Linked DNA regions of Homo sapiens: region 2 is linked to region 1. Evidence: fine-mapped expression QTL. Tissue or cell type: visceral fat. Region 1 holds a variant in brackets; the other region holds the start of a gene. All regions are shown on one strand. Distances are from middle to middle.

Region 1 (8,109 bases):
TCCCAAGGTTCTCTGAATATAACTGTAATACAGTTATCACACTGGTGTGCAACTATCTGCTTGACTTAACATTATCACATATCTATCAATAACACTCCTTAAGTTCTTGATAAATCCAAAGGTGTCAATCTTCATTTCACCTGATCCATCAGCTGCACCTGACAAAACTGAACATACTACTCTACTGTAAATTCTACAACACCAGACTCAAAATTGTCCTTGTCCCTCACTGGCTGCTCAGTCTGTCTCATTTGGTGGTTATTCCTCATTTTCCCAACTTGTTAAAATGCCTAAGGACTCAGGCCTTGTGCCCCTTCTCTTTTCTGTCTACATTTACTCCTTTAACGACTGTCTCCGGTCTCACAACTTTAAATACCATCTGTTCACTGACAATTCCCAAACGTCTGTTTCCAGCAATGACCACTCTGAAGTCCAGAATGAACATATTCAACTGCCTACTCAACATCTCCACTTAGATGACTAACAGACATCAAAAACTTATCATGTCCTTAACTGAACTCCGAATCTTCCCACAAACCTGCCCCTCCCACAGTTTTCTACTTCTCAGTTAATGGCAATTCCCTTCTTCTAGTTGCTCAAGCCCCAAACTTTGACAATAACCTTATTCTTACAATTCACTTTCAATCTGTAAGCAATTCTGTTTGCTTTTCCTAGAAAATACATCTAAAATTAAACTGCTTCTCCACCTTCACTTCTTTCCAGCCAGTTAAGATGTTATCATCTCATCTGAACTACAACACCTCCGTGATTAGTCTCCTGGTTTTCACCTACCCCACCCCACAGCAAACTATTCTTAAACACAGCAGCCAGAGAAGATTCTATTAAAACGTGAGTCAGGCTGGGCGCAGTGACTGACGCCTGTAATCCCAGCACTTTAGAAGGCTGAGACAGGCGGATCACCTGAGGTCAGGGGTTCGAGACCAGCCTGGCCAACATGGTGAAACCCTAACTCTACTAAAAACACAAAAAATTAGCTGGGCATGGCGACGGGTGCCTGTAATCCCAGCTACTCCGGAGGCTGAGGCAGGAGAATCGTTGGAACCCAGGAGGCGGAGGTTGCAGTGAGCCGAGATTGTGCCACTGCACTCCAGCCTGAGCAACAGAGTGAGACTCCAAAAGAAAAGAGGGGCGAGATGGGGTGGGGCAGGGCGGGCAAGGGCAGAGCAGGGCAGGAAAGGAAACAAAAGAAAACAAAAGACAATAAAGTAAAATAAAATAAAATAAAACAAACCTAAGTCAGATCATGTCACTCCTCTCCTCCTACCTTTCCATTGGTTATTTACTCACTGGGCTATTGCTCAAGGGAAGATTCATGTCGAGGCACATTTTGAACTCCACATCACTAACATAATGTCTTGTCATGTATTAGTTAGTTAGCAACTATTTGTTTACTAACTAAAACCAATCAAAGTAACCTAAGACGTAATTTTGGAAACTCTTAATATCAGATTACAGTTTGAGCTTACAGATACTAGAAAGTCACCACATGGATCCAAACAAACATACGATAATGTACATTCCAGGGCTCTTCCCATCTCTACACCAAATAATTATACACAGTTATGAACTAAGCCAAAGAACAAATCCAACATGATTGTTTTTTGGAATTTGAGAGCCATTTGCTGTTGTTGCACCAGAATTCTATTACTGTAATGAATTACTGTAATGACTTTTTCGCACTGCATTATCTTAGGAGAAAATAACAATGAAATGTACACACAAGTTCTCAATAAATATTGCTGTCTTGGGCAAACAGTGACTCCATGTTAGTGTTGTCTGTAACTCTCCTTCAGTCCCACAGTACAATTCCTGAGTAAATATAGACTTCTTCCTTTTCTAAAAAATATATTAACATCTAAAAATAAATTTATCCCAAAGTCTAATAGGAGAGTATATAAATTACGAGGATATTGCTCAAGATTGAGATGAACAATTACATTAAATTAAATTCACTTCTATTCAAAGTTTAATTCAAAGCATTTCCAAAATTACAGCAATCAAGCAGCAAAATTACCTTCCAAAACATATGGAAGTTGATTATTACAATTATCTTATTTCTGAAATAAGAGTATATAGTGTTGTTGCACAGATTAAATAAACTAGATAAAAGCCATTAGAACGGGGCCTGGCTCAGTTAGCACTCAATACATTAGATAGTATTTTACTAAAAGTGAAAATTACCAAATACTCTAATCCAATGTGAACTATTTAGAGCCATGCTTGAAGGGTCAACTTTGGAAACAGTAGCTGAGATAATACATATGAAGAGCCATTTGAAAAGGTAAAAGCAGTTAAGAAAAAAATTACATTACTTTTGAACTGTGATACATACAACACAGCTAACTGAAGGCAGCTGTAGTATCTTTTGACTGAGAATTTTATTTTGAAAAACCGTTATTCACACTTGTCACTATCTTTCAACAAAACAATGAGTTCTATCATTTCCACCAAACACAAACATTTCTCTGTACTTCAATAGGGCTAATCTGTTGTTTTTGAATCAAAAATACAGAGTTAAATAACTAAAAGTATAACTGGATTGTTTGTAACACAAAGGATAAGTGCCTGAAGGGATGGATACCCCATTTTCCATGTGATTCTTACATATTGCATGCCTGTATCAAAACATCTCGTGTACCCCATAAATATATACACCTATGTACCCACAAAATTTTTAAATTTAATTTTTTAAAAAATCACGGTTAAGTCTTGGTTCAGTCCACCATCAGACAGTCCTAATAGGTTAATAAGTGGATAGCAAACATCTCATTGCGACAAATACATCTTTATCAAGCCAAAACTGAACTGTAGTCAGCAAACATTGAGGACATTAAAGCTATTTTGAAACAAGTTTGAGTTACACTGAACTTATCCGGGTCATCAAGAAAAACTGCTCTCTTGGATTACCCACTACAGATTTCAGCTAAAGGTCGAAATTAGCCCACTATCTCAGATGAGCTAATACTGCAGCAGCAGGCAGTCTGTGAATGTGAATGATAAACGGAGCTAACACAGTAAAGTTACTCCCCTAGACGTTCCACTTTAGCCTCTCTCCCTAAGCAAGATTGAAAACAGCTGAAAATTGTGAAGACTTCAATGTTTTTTGATTTTTGTTTTTAATTTCTTCGTCTTCCAAGATTTGAGAAGGGGGTGGTTAACAAACGAAGAAAAAGAGAGAGACCGGAGCAAAAGAGAGAAATGAGGGGCCGGGGTAAGCCAAAGCCTGCAAGCAGCCCCAAAACAAGCGGAAGTGGGGGACCTGCCAACAATGCTGCCCCAACGAAGAGCTGTGAGAGACTGCATTCCTGGAAGGCTACGCAGCCAAACTCCGATTTTCTCAGTCTGCCCAGAGGATGACAGGGGAATCCCAGGAGAGGAAAAGCGGAGTTAAACAGGAGCAGGAGAAAAACTGAAACTACACCTTAGAAAAATACCTCACGGCCTTCGACTCCAGTCTCCCGGAAAGCGGTCGGGCAACGATGACGACAATGACGCGCCGGCTCTGCCCCCGCCACGAGCGGCGCTTCCCGATGATCTCACGCTGCTCGCCACGCCCCCTGCTCCTTAACTCTTCTCCAAAGGCAAATCTCATTTTGAGTAGCTCAGACCCATGTTGTGGGAGACGATTGCGGCGGCACTCGGAACTTTTGTCTACCTTTGTACCCGGCTAACACTCACCCCAAATACAGGTTGAGTGTATTTAACCAGGAAAAAAATCTTAGTTATCGAAACTTTGTTCGGGTTTTTACTTTCCCAGAAGCTTTTTTCAGGGCCCTCATTCTTTCTACCCTTTTATTGTCTGCCTCTAGATGAGCCTCTTAGAGCAGCTTCCCAGATTATCCGTGGGGAAGAACAGGTTCTTTATTAGATTATCCGTGGGGAAGAATGGGTTCTTTATTTTTCCAATCTGTCAGTAAAAGGTACTTCTATAAAATACAGTAAAAATGAATTAGTAGAAAAATGGGGAAAATATGTGCAAAATACAAGCCCAAATTTTTTATTAGTTTCAAATAAATGTAAAATTGCATTTCAATGTATGCAATCAGAACAAACATAATAGAAAATAAAGGCATTAACAGAAACTGTACATACTGTTCATTGAAAGTGTAGTATAAGCGATTGAGCATTGTCTTAACATTTGTAACTTGTCATTCCACGGCTGTAATTTGATAAAAAGTTATGCATGAAACAGTTGTCCGTATATTAAATGCATGTAAAAGCATTTTGAACAAGCACCATGTATGTAATATTTAAAGTTTTGGGGGAGGTTCCAAAGTGGCCGAATAGGAACAGCTCCAGTCTACAGCTCCCAGCATGAGCAACGCAGAAGATGGGTGATTTCTGCATTTCCAACTGAGGTACCGGGTTCATCTCACTGGGGCTTCTCAGACACTGGGTGCAGCCCACAGAGCAGGGCGAGGCATGACCTCACCCGGGAAGCACAAGGGATCAGGGAATTCCCTTTCTTAGCAAAGGGAAGCCATGATAGACGGTACCTGGAAAATTGGGACACTCCCATCCTAATACTGTGCTTTTCCAACGGTCTTAGCAAACGGCACACCAGAAGATTATATCCCGTGACTGGCTCAGAGGGTCCCACGCCCACGGAGC[C/T]TGGCTCACTGCTACCACAGCAGTCTGAGATCAAACTGCAAGGCAGCAGCGAGGCTGGGGGAGGGGCGTCTGCCATTGCTGAGGCTTAAGTAGATAAACAAAGTGGCCAGGAAGCTTGAACTGGGTGGAGCCCATCGCAGCTCAAGGAGGCCTGCCTGCCTCTGTAGACCCCACCTCTGGGGGCAAGGCATAGCTGAACAAAAGGCAGCAGAAAGTTCTGCAGACTTAAATGTCCGTCTGACAGCTTTGAAGAGAGTAGTGCTTCTCCCAGCACGGAGTTTGAGATCTGAGAACGGACAGACTGTCTCCTCAAGTGGGTCCCTGACCCCCGAGTAGCCTAACTGGGAGACACCTCCCAGCAGGGGCCAACTGACACCTCATACAGCTGGGTGCCCCTCTGAGATGAAGCTTCCAGAGGAAGGATCAGGCAGCAATATTTGCCATTCTGCAATATTTGCTGTTCTGCAGCCTCCGATGGTGACACCCAGGCAAACAGGGTCTAGAGTGGACCTTCAGCAAACTCCAACAGACCTGCAGCTGAGGGTCCTGACTGTTAGAAGGAAAACTAACAAAAAGAAAAGACATCCACACCAAAAACCCATCTGTACGTCACCATCATCAAAGACCAAAGGTAGATAAAACCACAAAGATGGGGATAAATCAGAGCAGAAAAGCCGAAAATTCTAAAAATCAGAGCGCCTCTTCTCCTCCAAAGGAATGCAGCTCCTCACCAGCAATGGAACAAACCTGGACAGAGAATGACTTTGACAAATTGAGAGAAGAAAGCTTCAGACGACTGGTAATAACAAACTTCTCCGAGCTAAAGGAGGATGTTTGAACCCATTGCAAAGAAGCTAAAAACCTTGAAAAAAGATTAGACGAATGGCTAACTAGAATAAACAGTGTAGAGAAGTCCTTAAATGACTGATGGAACTGAAAATCGTGGCACGAGAAGAACGTGACGCATGCACAAGCTTCAGTAGCCGATTTGATCAAGTGGAAGAAAGAGTATCAGTGATTGAAGATCAAATGAATGAAATGAAGCAAGAAGAGAAGTTTAGAGAAAAAAGAGTAAAAAGAAATGAACAAAGCCTCCAAGAAATATGAGACTTTGTGAAAAGACCAAATCTGCATCTGAATTGTGTACCTGAAAGTGACTGGGAGAATGGAACCAAGTTGGAAAACACTCTTCAGGATATCATCCAGGAGAACTTCCCCAACCTAGTGAAGCTGGCCAACATGCAAATTCAGGAAATACAGAGAACACCACAAAGATACTCGTCGAGAAGAGCAACTCCAAGACACATAATTGTCAGATTCACCAAAGTTGAAATGAAGGAAAAAATGTTAAGGGCAGCCAGAAAGGTCAGGTTACCCACAAAGGGAAGCCCATCATAGTAACAGCTGATCTCTCGGCAGAAACTCTACAAGCCAGAAGAGAGTGGGGGCCAATATTCAACATTCTTAAAGAAAAGAATTTTCAACCCAGAATATCATATCCAGCCAAACTAAGCTTCATAAGTGAAGGAGAAATAAAATCCTTTACAGACAAATATACTGAGAGATTTTGTCACCACCAGGCCTGCCTTACAAGAACTCCTGAAGGAAGCACTAAAGATGGAAAGGAACAACTGGTACCAGCCACTGCAAAAACATGCCAATTGTAAAGGCCATCAATGCTAGGAAGAAACTGCATCAACTAATGAGCGAAATAACCAGCTAACATCATAATGACAGGATCAAATTCACACATAACAATATTAACCTGAAATGTAAATGGGCTAAATGCTCCAATTAAAAGACATAGACTGGCAGATTGGATAAAGAGTCAAGACCCATCAGTGTGCTGTATTCAGGAGACCCAACTCACATTCAGAGACACACATAGGCTAAAATAAAGGGCTGGAGGACGATCTACCAAGCAAATGGAAAACAAAAAAAAGCAGGAGTTGCAATCCTAATCTCTGATAAACCAGACTTTAAACCAACAAAGATCAAAAGAGACAAAGAAGGCCATTACATAATGGTAAATGGATCAATTCAATAGGAAGAGCTAACTATACTACCTATACATGCACCCAATACAGGAGCACCCAGATTCATAAAGCAAGCCCTTAGAGACCTATAAAGAGACTTAGACTCCCACACAATAATAATGGGAGACTTTAACACCCCACTGTCAATATTAGACAGATCAACGAGACAGAAAGTTAACAAGGATATCCAGGAATTGAACTCAGCTCTGCACCAAGCAGACCTAGTAGACATCTACAGAAATCTCCACCCCAAATTAACAGAATATACATTCTTCTCAGCACCACATCACACTTATTCCAAAATTGACCACATATTTAGAAGTAAAGTACTCCTCAGCAAATGTAAAAGAACAGAAATTATAACAAACTGTCTCTCAGGCCACAGTGCAATCAAACTAGAACTCAGGATTAAGAGACTCACTCAAAACCGCTTAACTACATGGAAACAGAACAACCTGCTCCTGAATGACTACTGGGTACATAACAAAATGAAGGCAGAAATAAAGATGTTGTTTGAAACCAATGAGAACAAAGACACAACATACCAGAATCTCTGGGACACATTTAAAGCAGTGTGTAGAGGGAAATTTATAGCACTAAATGCCCACAAGAGAAAGCAGGAAAGATCTAAAATTGACACCCTAACATCACAATTAAAAGAACTAGAGAAGCAAGAGCAAACACATTCAAAAGCTAGCAGAAGGCAAGAAATAACTAAGATCAGAGCAGAACTGAAGGAGATAGAGAAACAAAAAGCCCTTCAAAAAATCAATGAATCCAGGAGCTGGTTTTTGAAAAGATCAACCAAATTGATAGGCCACTAGCAAGACTAATAAAGAAGAGAGAATAATCAAATAGACACAGTAAAAAATGATAAAGGGGATATCACCACCGATCCCACAGAAATACAAACTACCATCAGAGAATACTATAAACACCTCTACACAAATAAACTAGAAAATCTAGAAGAAATGGATAAATTCCTCGACACATACACCCTCCCAAGACTAAACCAGGAAGAAGTTGAATCCCTGAATAGACCAATAACAGTTTCTGAAACTGAGGCAATAATTAATAGCCAACCAAAAAAAGTCCAGGACCAGACGGATTCACAGCCGAATTCTACCAGAGGTACAAAGAGGAGCTGGTACCATTCCTTCTGAAAGTATTCCCATCAATAGAAAAAGAGGGAATCCTCCTTAATTCATTTTATGAGGCCAGCATCATCCTGATACCAAAGCCTGGCAGAGACACAACAAAAAAAGAGAATTTTAGACCAATATCCCTGATGAACATTGATGCAAAAATCCTCAATAAAATACTGGCAAACCAGATCCAGCAGCACATCAAAAAGCTTATCCACCAGGATCAAGCTGGCTTCATCCCTGGGATGCAAGGATGGTTCAACATACACAAATCAGTAAATGTAATCCATCATATA
Region 2 (8,109 bases), 190 kb after region 1:
TGGTCATAAGACAGGTTTTTTTTTTTCTAAAAAGTGGCCTTTGCCACAGAATCTGAACTAGAATATGTTGTGTAAAACTCTACATACAGTTATAGACGGCAATAAATTTGTTTTAAGTTCTAGATGCAGATCATGGAGATAAAAAAAAATTTAAAAGTTTAAAAGCACAAAGACATGAAAAGGCCTTTATAAAATTTAAAGTTCCCTTAAGAAACAAAACGTAAAACAATTACCTTTATATTATGTTCATTTAAGTATCCAGAACAAAATCCGTATTATCTATTTCAACAAAAACATATATAAAACACCTCGTTCAGGGGAAATTCCTAGGAGCTCACTATTTACAAGATTTTTTTTTTTAACATATAACCTTCATTCTCCCTGGACGCTTAACAATTTAAAACTCAAATAAGGGTGAAGGGAGGGAAAGACTTTAACTTTCAGGAAAAAAAAAAATAAACTACGTTTAAGGCACCAACTAAAATTAATACCTGTCAGAAAAGATCCTTGAGAGTACATTTAAATCTTATAAGCCTTTTTACTTTCCATACTTGAATTAACTAGTGATATTTCATACTGTAAATGCTGTTGACAGAATGTAAATAATAAGAGTTCTAAGAGAGATTTTCCAAAGGGTGTGAAAGTTTTCAGAATTGTATGTTCAATTAACCAGAAAAATTAACCAGATCACTCCAAAGCCTGATTTATTTGGGTTAATCGACATCCCATATGGCAAAGTTGAGTTATGGGTATGGTCTTGATACTTTCAAACCAGTACTGTATTCAGCAGACCAAAATAACCCTAAAGTTGGAAAGCCACTGCCAACATTATGTAGGTCCTGAAATGGTATTGGGAGGATGAAAGAGGAAAAAAAAAAACCCAACAGTTGAATTAGGAAATAAATACTGAAAAGGGAGCTGGGAAGAAAAGGAACATAATGACCTGGCAGGAAACAACATCGTCTGATACACCGTAAAATATTTTAAAAGACAAGAAAACAGAGTTAACAGGAAAATAAGAAATTGAAGAGCTAAAAGAGAACTTCCCAGTTTCAGTCTGTTGTTCAAAAAACAGAGGACGGGGTGCACCGCAAGAGAGTTACTATTTGGAAACCATACCACTTCGCTGTATAATATATAAACAACAAAAGGCTAGATCATTGTTCCTCAAATGTGCTGTTTATAAAGCTAAGTAAAAACATTCCCTGCAATGAACAAAGATCTTCAAGATCCTGACCTTCAAGTAAAGCATGTGCATAAGGAAATTCTATTAAAGCACTGAAATGCAATTCTTCACTTCAAAAGACTATGCCAACAAAAAGATTATATGATGAATGGCTATGATCTTCCTAAATTGTTTTGTGACTTTCAGGTGCCAAAGTTGCCTCTCTGAGCTGCCTCGCAAGTTGGCAAGGAAAAACTTTCTCTACACATCAAAATCGGCAATCATTTAAGTCTGCTCTTAATCTGGGTTTTAAGTGCACCAGTAAGCACTTACTCATTTGCCCTATATTTTAAATAAAAGCTGACTTACCTGAATATTCTAATTTCACGTTCTTCCCTTAAAATCGATTTCACCAAATCGATTTTAAGTTGTAAGCAACAGCATTCCTCCCTTCAGTAATCCACCACGTACACTGAAGCACTTAAATTCTACATACAGGGTGGGATACCATACAGTGGAAAAGATGCGAGAAATTACCCACCGTCAACCAGTTTAAGTCTTCTGACAACTGTTCAAAGACTTTTAGAGAAAGCCTAATAACTGAATCGCATGATGGAGTATCTGATATACGCGGAATAGCACTCTGAACTTTCTCTACTGTGTATACAACTCTTGATTACAAAGAGGAAACTAACGACTAGGGCTTCCCCGAGCGAGAGAACCGGTAAGGTAACAGGCTAAAAGGGCGTCGTTGATTTCTTGGCTGCAGCGACAGAGGCGGGAGACACACCCCTAGCGTCGGTCTGAAACACTACAGCAGCGAATTCTACCTAGGGATTAATGTGAGGGTAAGGAAAGACAAATTAAAATCGCCATGATTCAAAAACAACCACTCCAAGAGAGAGACACAAGAAGGTACCAAAGAAAATGAAAAAACCCTTGGTAGTAACGGAAGCATGAAAAATTAAGCGCCCCCATTTCTCCCAAACCAAGTTCGCGTATGTTTTCGTGAACAAACACCTTGGATCTTTCCGGTTCGCCAGGGCAGCGAGCAAAGCAGCAGCGAACGGAAACCCCGCAGGGCTGCGCACCGCAGCTAAACCGACGCTCGCAGGAGAGGGGAAGTGAGTGGCAGGGTTCCCTGCCAAGACTCACTGCTGGGAAACAGGCAGTGAGTGGAAGCAGCAGCAGCTCTGGAGAGTAAGTGGGTCTTATGTAAAGTGCCATTTGCCACATATTGTTATTTCCAAAGGATTTCAGAATACCCTCGAACTCGAAAAACAGAGTGAGTGTGGAGGGGAGGGGGGTGCTCCACGTGGAGGAGGGTCGCGAGAAGGAGAGTGCGCCGGGCTGATGGTCAGCGGTGCCCGCGGGGGTCGATGCCGGGCGGGACCGGCGGCGCGGGGGTGGGGCGACGGCGGGGCGGCGGCCGAGCAGCAGAGGGGCGCCCCGCAGAGGCCGGGGGCGGGCGCGGGGGCCCCGCCGCCGTCCTGTCAGCAGCCGCCCCGCCGCCCTCTCCGGCTCGCCCGCAACCGCCGCGGGACCCGCCGGGCCCGGGTCTCTGGAATTTTCCACGGGGGACAGCCGACCGGGGGCGTCGGGGCTCGCCCCCGCACCCGACCCGGACGGCGGCAGTAGGGGGAGGGATGGTGCATCGAGGAAGCCAAGGTCTCACCATTTTGCTCGGCGGGTCGGCGGCTCGCTGGCTCGCTGGCTCGGAGAAGTGTTGCGCTCAGGCTGGCTCGCAGGAAACGGCGGCGGCGGCCCAGCTGCGGCCCTCGGGTCGCCGGCGGGGAGGGGGCGCGCGTGGGGGAGGGGAGGCGGCGCCGCGGGGCCCGCGCCGGCCGGGCGATTGGGCACGCGAGGGAGCGGGCAGGGTAGGGGGAAATAAATTAAGGTCGAGATTCAGAGCCGGAGAGCGCGGGAGGAGCAGCGGCGAGAGGCAGGAGAGGCAGAGAAGAAGAAAGGAGGGGGAGAGGGGGCGAAGACGGCCGGGAAACTCGGGGGCTGCAGCCTCGCGCTCGCGCCGGAGCCGTGACGGACTCACTGCAGCGGCTCGCGCTGACCCGCAACCTCAAGGCACGAAAAAAGGGGAGGGCGGAGAGGGAGGGGAAAGCGGAGTGCTGCAGCGCGCGGGGCGGGGGCGGGGCTTCCGCGAGCGCCGCACATCCGGGAACCTGCGCGCCCCGCTGGGCGGCGAGTGCCGCGGCGCTCTGGCGAGCTCTGGTTGGGGAACGCTGAGCGCGCGGACCACGTTCGCCCCTCAGCCGGCCGCCCCTTGCGTGCAGGGTGGGGGGAGGCCAGGGGCGGGGGCGCGGACGTCGGTGACGTCGCGTGGCGGAGCCCTTCCGGTCATGTGGCTGGAGGCGGGCGGGGAAGAAGGCAAGGCTGGGAGGGGAAGGAGGAAATGCGAGGGTTCCCCGGCGGGAGGAAGCGCGAGGGGTGCGCGAGTGCTAGCGAAAGGGGGACAGGGGCCCTGGAGTGGAAGCCTTGCGGGAGAGGAGGAGCAGAGGAGCAGTCTTAGGGTGTCAGAACCACCCGGATGCCGCACCAAAAAACAGGAAAAATCCAAGTCCTGCGAGAGGCAGTCAAAGGTATCTGTGCATCCGTGTACCGACTTGGATCCACTACAGAATTGCACGGCCCATCAGGACTGCTGTCACCCCGGTGCAGCACCCGCAGGCCCATCTGTAATATGAATTGGCAGAGTCAGGAACCAGGTTGCAAAGACAGAGAAGCGAGCCAAAGCTGGCCGCAGCCCGAGGCGTGGGGAGAACCTGGGCAAACGAGGAGAAGGGATACTTCCCACTCGCAGAAAGACTTTCCACCCAGCTCTGCATTCCCATAAACCGTCCAGACTCCCCTTTGGCGGAGTCCATCAGTTTTTGTTTAAAAAAAGAAAAAAACTCGAATGTAGATTGCCCGCTTATCCTTTTAGTAGAGCTATATCCACTCCTGTGGCAATTATCTTCCCAGAAAATTCAGATTACAATAGGAAATTACATCCAGAAAAGCATAAGGAGGAAATTTATGTTCGAGAGAAGAAATAAAGCTGTCAGGAGAGGTGTGATGAGGATAACGAAGAAAACATTTTGCAACTATTTTAACCAGTTATTCCTTTACAAGCCTTGATAATCGCCCGCACTCGTGTGTGTTTGAGAGTGTGTGTGTGTGTGTGTGTGTGTGTGAGAGAGAGAGAGAGGATGTTTTCTGAGTGATCGGAAACTCCTTATTGATAAAGCCTTTGAGTCATTTTATAAAAAGCCATTGTGTTGTTTTTTTTTAAAAAAGTCTTAATGATCCTTACATGAGAACTTTATTCTTTTTATGTGCTAATTATTTTTCCATATGATGAGCATGCATTTTTTTCTAATAAACGCTCAGCGATTTGCCCTAGGACTAAATGGTTCCTGTCTCTCTTTCTCTCTGTCTTTCTCTCTCTGTCAATCCCCCCCTCCCCGCCCCTCCATCCCTCCCCTTCCCCCTTCAGGAGCTACTTTGCTTCTGTGTCAGGATGAATAAGGAAAAGAACTTAGACATAACAAGCTGTGTCACACAGTGAATGTATCAAGGAAAGGCCAAGAAGGGACACTTTCTTCCACAAGTTTCTTGATTTAAATATGTTGCTATTTGATACTAACATATTACAGAACAAGAAAAAGTCCCTAGGGTATATGTGTAACGTTTTCTAGGTATACTATTTAAAATTAGTTTTTTATCATAAAAAGACGTGCTTTTTAAGAAAAAGTACTGTATGCAAAATTCTTCCTCTCTCCACTTACCAGAGGTAATCATGCTAACTGCATTTGTTTGTGTCCCTTGGACATTTTCAGTGAAAATCAAATTATTTTAACTAAGGGGTATGCACTAAGAAGGAATTCGAGCTATTTGGAATACAGTGGATTTAAAATAACCCATAATTTTGTTGTGTTGGAGGCAATTTATACTAGTCTGAATTCAGTAAGATAAGTAAATCCAAAATGCACCTTTAATAGGTTTTTCATCAAAAGGCTGAGGGGAAAAGTATGGTAAGTAGTCATTCTCCTTTTTGTCTCTTTCCATTAAATTTTGATGTAAAGCTTAGTGTGAGTGGGAACAGGTACCAAACAGTCCTGCAGAAGCATATGTGTTTTTAAAAATGTATGTACCAAATAGCCCTGCTAAAGGCATACATGTTTTTAAATAACTAGATAAATGAAGAGGTAATGGACATATCTTTGTGGCTTATTTTTCCTAGAAAATTTAACAAGCTCTTAGATGATTATCAGAAAGAATTATGTCAGATAAATTGAAGGGAGAAACACTTAAGACAGGGATGCCAGTTACAAGAATTAGTAACAGGTAGGCATGAGGTGATAAGGGATACCAATGGCAGAGGAAAGGAAAGGCGAGTATGAACAACATGAAGCAAAAATGGACTGACTATGCAACATAGTGGATGTGTGGAACAGAGAGGGAGAAATAAAAGGTGACCAGTTTTCGTTTTGATGACAGGAAATAGTGTTAACATTAAGAGAAATGGAGAGGTCCAAAGTTTGGCTATTGAGTGAGAAGAGATGAGTTTAGATTTAAAGATGCAAAGTTTTAGTTGCTGATGAGCTATCCCAGTGGAAGCACCCAAATAGAAGCTGAAAGTGCAGGTTAGAAAGGAATAGAGATATGGGAATCAATTTTAAAAAGGATTAAAATGAAATCTTCAAATTTTTCCTTATTTAATTAGTGATAGGAGAAGGAAAAGACCCAGAAATGATAATAAAGCTGCTAGGTAGAAAATTAAAGGAAAAGAAGGTTTTAAGAAAGAGAGAGTAGACCGGGCAAAGTGGCTCACGCCTGTAATCCCAGCACTTTGGGAGGCCAAGGTGAGTGGATCACCTGAGGTCAGGAGTTCAAGATCAGCCTGGCCAAACTGGTGAGACCCTGTCTTTACGAAAAATACAAAAATTAGCTGGGTGTTTTAGTACGTAGCTGTAATCCCAGCTACTTGGGAGGCTGAGGCAGGAGAATTGCTTGAACCTGGGGGATGGAGGTTGCAGTGAGCCAAGATCGAACCACTATTGCACTCCAGCCTGGGCAGCAGAGCAAGACTCTGTCTCAAAAAAAAAAAAAAAAAGTGGGTAATGTTTACAGTCATGTTTGACCATAGGCAGCCTCAGACTTCTGTGTCTCCACAATTACCATTAGGAAGTTAGAAATGTCACAAGATATTATTTCCTCCGTAGACCTTTAAGATAACAGTGACATCCAGAAAGTTGCCTTACTCTTAAAGGACTGATCACTGCCATTACTTTATATATAATATTTAAGGGTTTCAGGAGAAACAAATTACCATTTCTGTAGTTGTTTAAGGTATTTACAGTATTACTCCCCAAATGGCCACTTTTAGTAATGATTATATTTACTAACATCAACTAGAAACTATGTTTGATTTTTCTACTCTTCTTGTACATAGGAAGAAAATGCCAATCAAAAATGAAAGTCAGTTAAAACCACTTGAAAGCAATGTCTGTTCCTTTTTAGAATGGAAAGTTGGAGGAAACTTCAGCCTCTCCTCTTAGATAAAATGCATGCCCCAGGTTAAGAATTCCAGGTGTAAGAATACTTTGTACCTTTTTGCCACATAGTTCCATACCACAAGATTCCCTTCTCAGTGGACACTGAGGTTGCATAGGGAATAGATCACCTTCCTTCTCAGAATTCTTTTTTGTAATGAGGAGAACGCAGGGATGCAAGCTAGCCCCCTACTCCAGGGTGTGGTTGAGAAAGGGCTCCCAGGCACCTGAGATGCCAAGAGAAGTGGGTCATTCCCTTCCTGCTAAGCAGCAGAGGTTTTTGCCAAGGATCTAAATTCCATCTTGGAAACTCATTTCTCCATAGAAACCATTTCACAAAGAGTTCTATAAACAATGGCCTTCCTGCAAAAAGCCTACTTAAATTACAATGTAGCTGAAATTCTGTGTATTTGCTACTAAAAGTTCAATAGTAGAAAATAATACTCTTAAATATATGTATCTTTTTGAATTAATGCATTTGGGAAAAAATGTATTCCAAGTACTAGATGGGTTTTTTTCTTTAATTGTACATATAATTACTTTTAAAATTATGGACTTTGTATAACTTTTCCAGTTCCCACAAGAGAATTAAGAATATTGAATTTGTTCAAAATTAAGCCTTCTATCACTTACTTTTTAGATGAAATACAAATTAGGACAGTTTTTAAATTAGGAGTTTCCTAATAAAAAAATTATATGATAAATTAGTTACATAAGTTGTTTCCATACTATGCACTGGAACAAAAAGAAAAGGAAAGAAAAAGACTTCATAAGATTTATTCCTAAACCTCTTGCATTCACACTAATTTTGTGTGTTAGAAGAAAAGCCCACAGTGTTTTTAAACAGTTTGTTAACGCTCTTTACATAATGAGCTTTATTCTTTTTCTATGCTAATTATTTTTTCATGTATGAGTACATTACAGTTGGGTGATTATCTACATAAAAATGACTTGAAATCAAGAAAGAGAGGACAGAGATCAGAGAGTTTAAACAGTAAAGACCTGGGGCAAGGCAGAACTAAAGGGAGCATCTACGTTTGAGTGGCAGAAGGAAAAAGAAGTGATAGGAAAGATGATGAGCAAACCAGAAGGGCAGAAGACCCAGTAAGGATACCCTGGAAGCTGAAAGGGAGGAGTTCAAGATCAAAGGTTGATCAACATCATCTAGTGGCTGGGGGGTCCAGCAGTGTGGTCAGAGAGGACCAAGACAGATGGAGGTGTCCATTGAGGTGTCCTAGATTATGTCATGACATTGTTTATCTGAATTAAAAGTCTGTCTCATTTATTTGGTCTTTTGCACATAAAAGTGAATACCAAGAAAAAGCCTGGTTATTTGGACTTTGATAGTATTTCCATTTTACTAGTTTAGTAAGAGTATTTTATACCATCTTCTTA

Direction of the effects. Positions count from the first base shown, and alleles are read on the strand shown. Sizes are in standard deviations (SD) of each study's normalised expression.
For the expression in visceral fat of the gene that starts at base 3,248 in region 2, allele T in region 1 goes with a lower level than allele C (large effect, 0.85 SD a copy in GTEx).

What was found. PIP is the estimated chance that this variant, and not a neighbour inherited with it, causes the effect.
Region 2: PPP3R1 starts here. The variant in region 1 is fine-mapped to the expression of PPP3R1 in visceral fat (GTEx, PIP 0.97).

Annotation. Positions count from the first base shown.
Region 1 is chr2:68,059,503-68,067,611 of GRCh38, forward strand. C1D (C1D nuclear receptor corepressor) reads right to left here and starts at 3,502. Exons shown (of 5, transcript NM_173177.3): 1 at 3,456-3,502. RefSeq lists enhancers at 3,070-4,269, 3,191-3,600, 3,353-3,853. The variant C/T (reference allele first, on the strand shown) is at 4,633.
Region 2 is chr2:68,249,285-68,257,393 of GRCh38, forward strand. It overlaps PPP3R1 (protein phosphatase 3 regulatory subunit B, alpha), which reads right to left and starts at 3,248. Exons shown (of 6, transcript NM_000945.4): 1 at 2,841-3,248. The coding sequence starts at 2,843. PPP3R1-AS1 (PPP3R1 and CNRIP1 antisense RNA 1) reads left to right here and starts at 2,319. Exons shown (of 2, transcript XR_001739527.2): 1 at 2,319-2,450. RefSeq lists silencers at 2,568-2,677, 2,858-2,907, 3,168-3,607 and an enhancer at 3,698-4,367.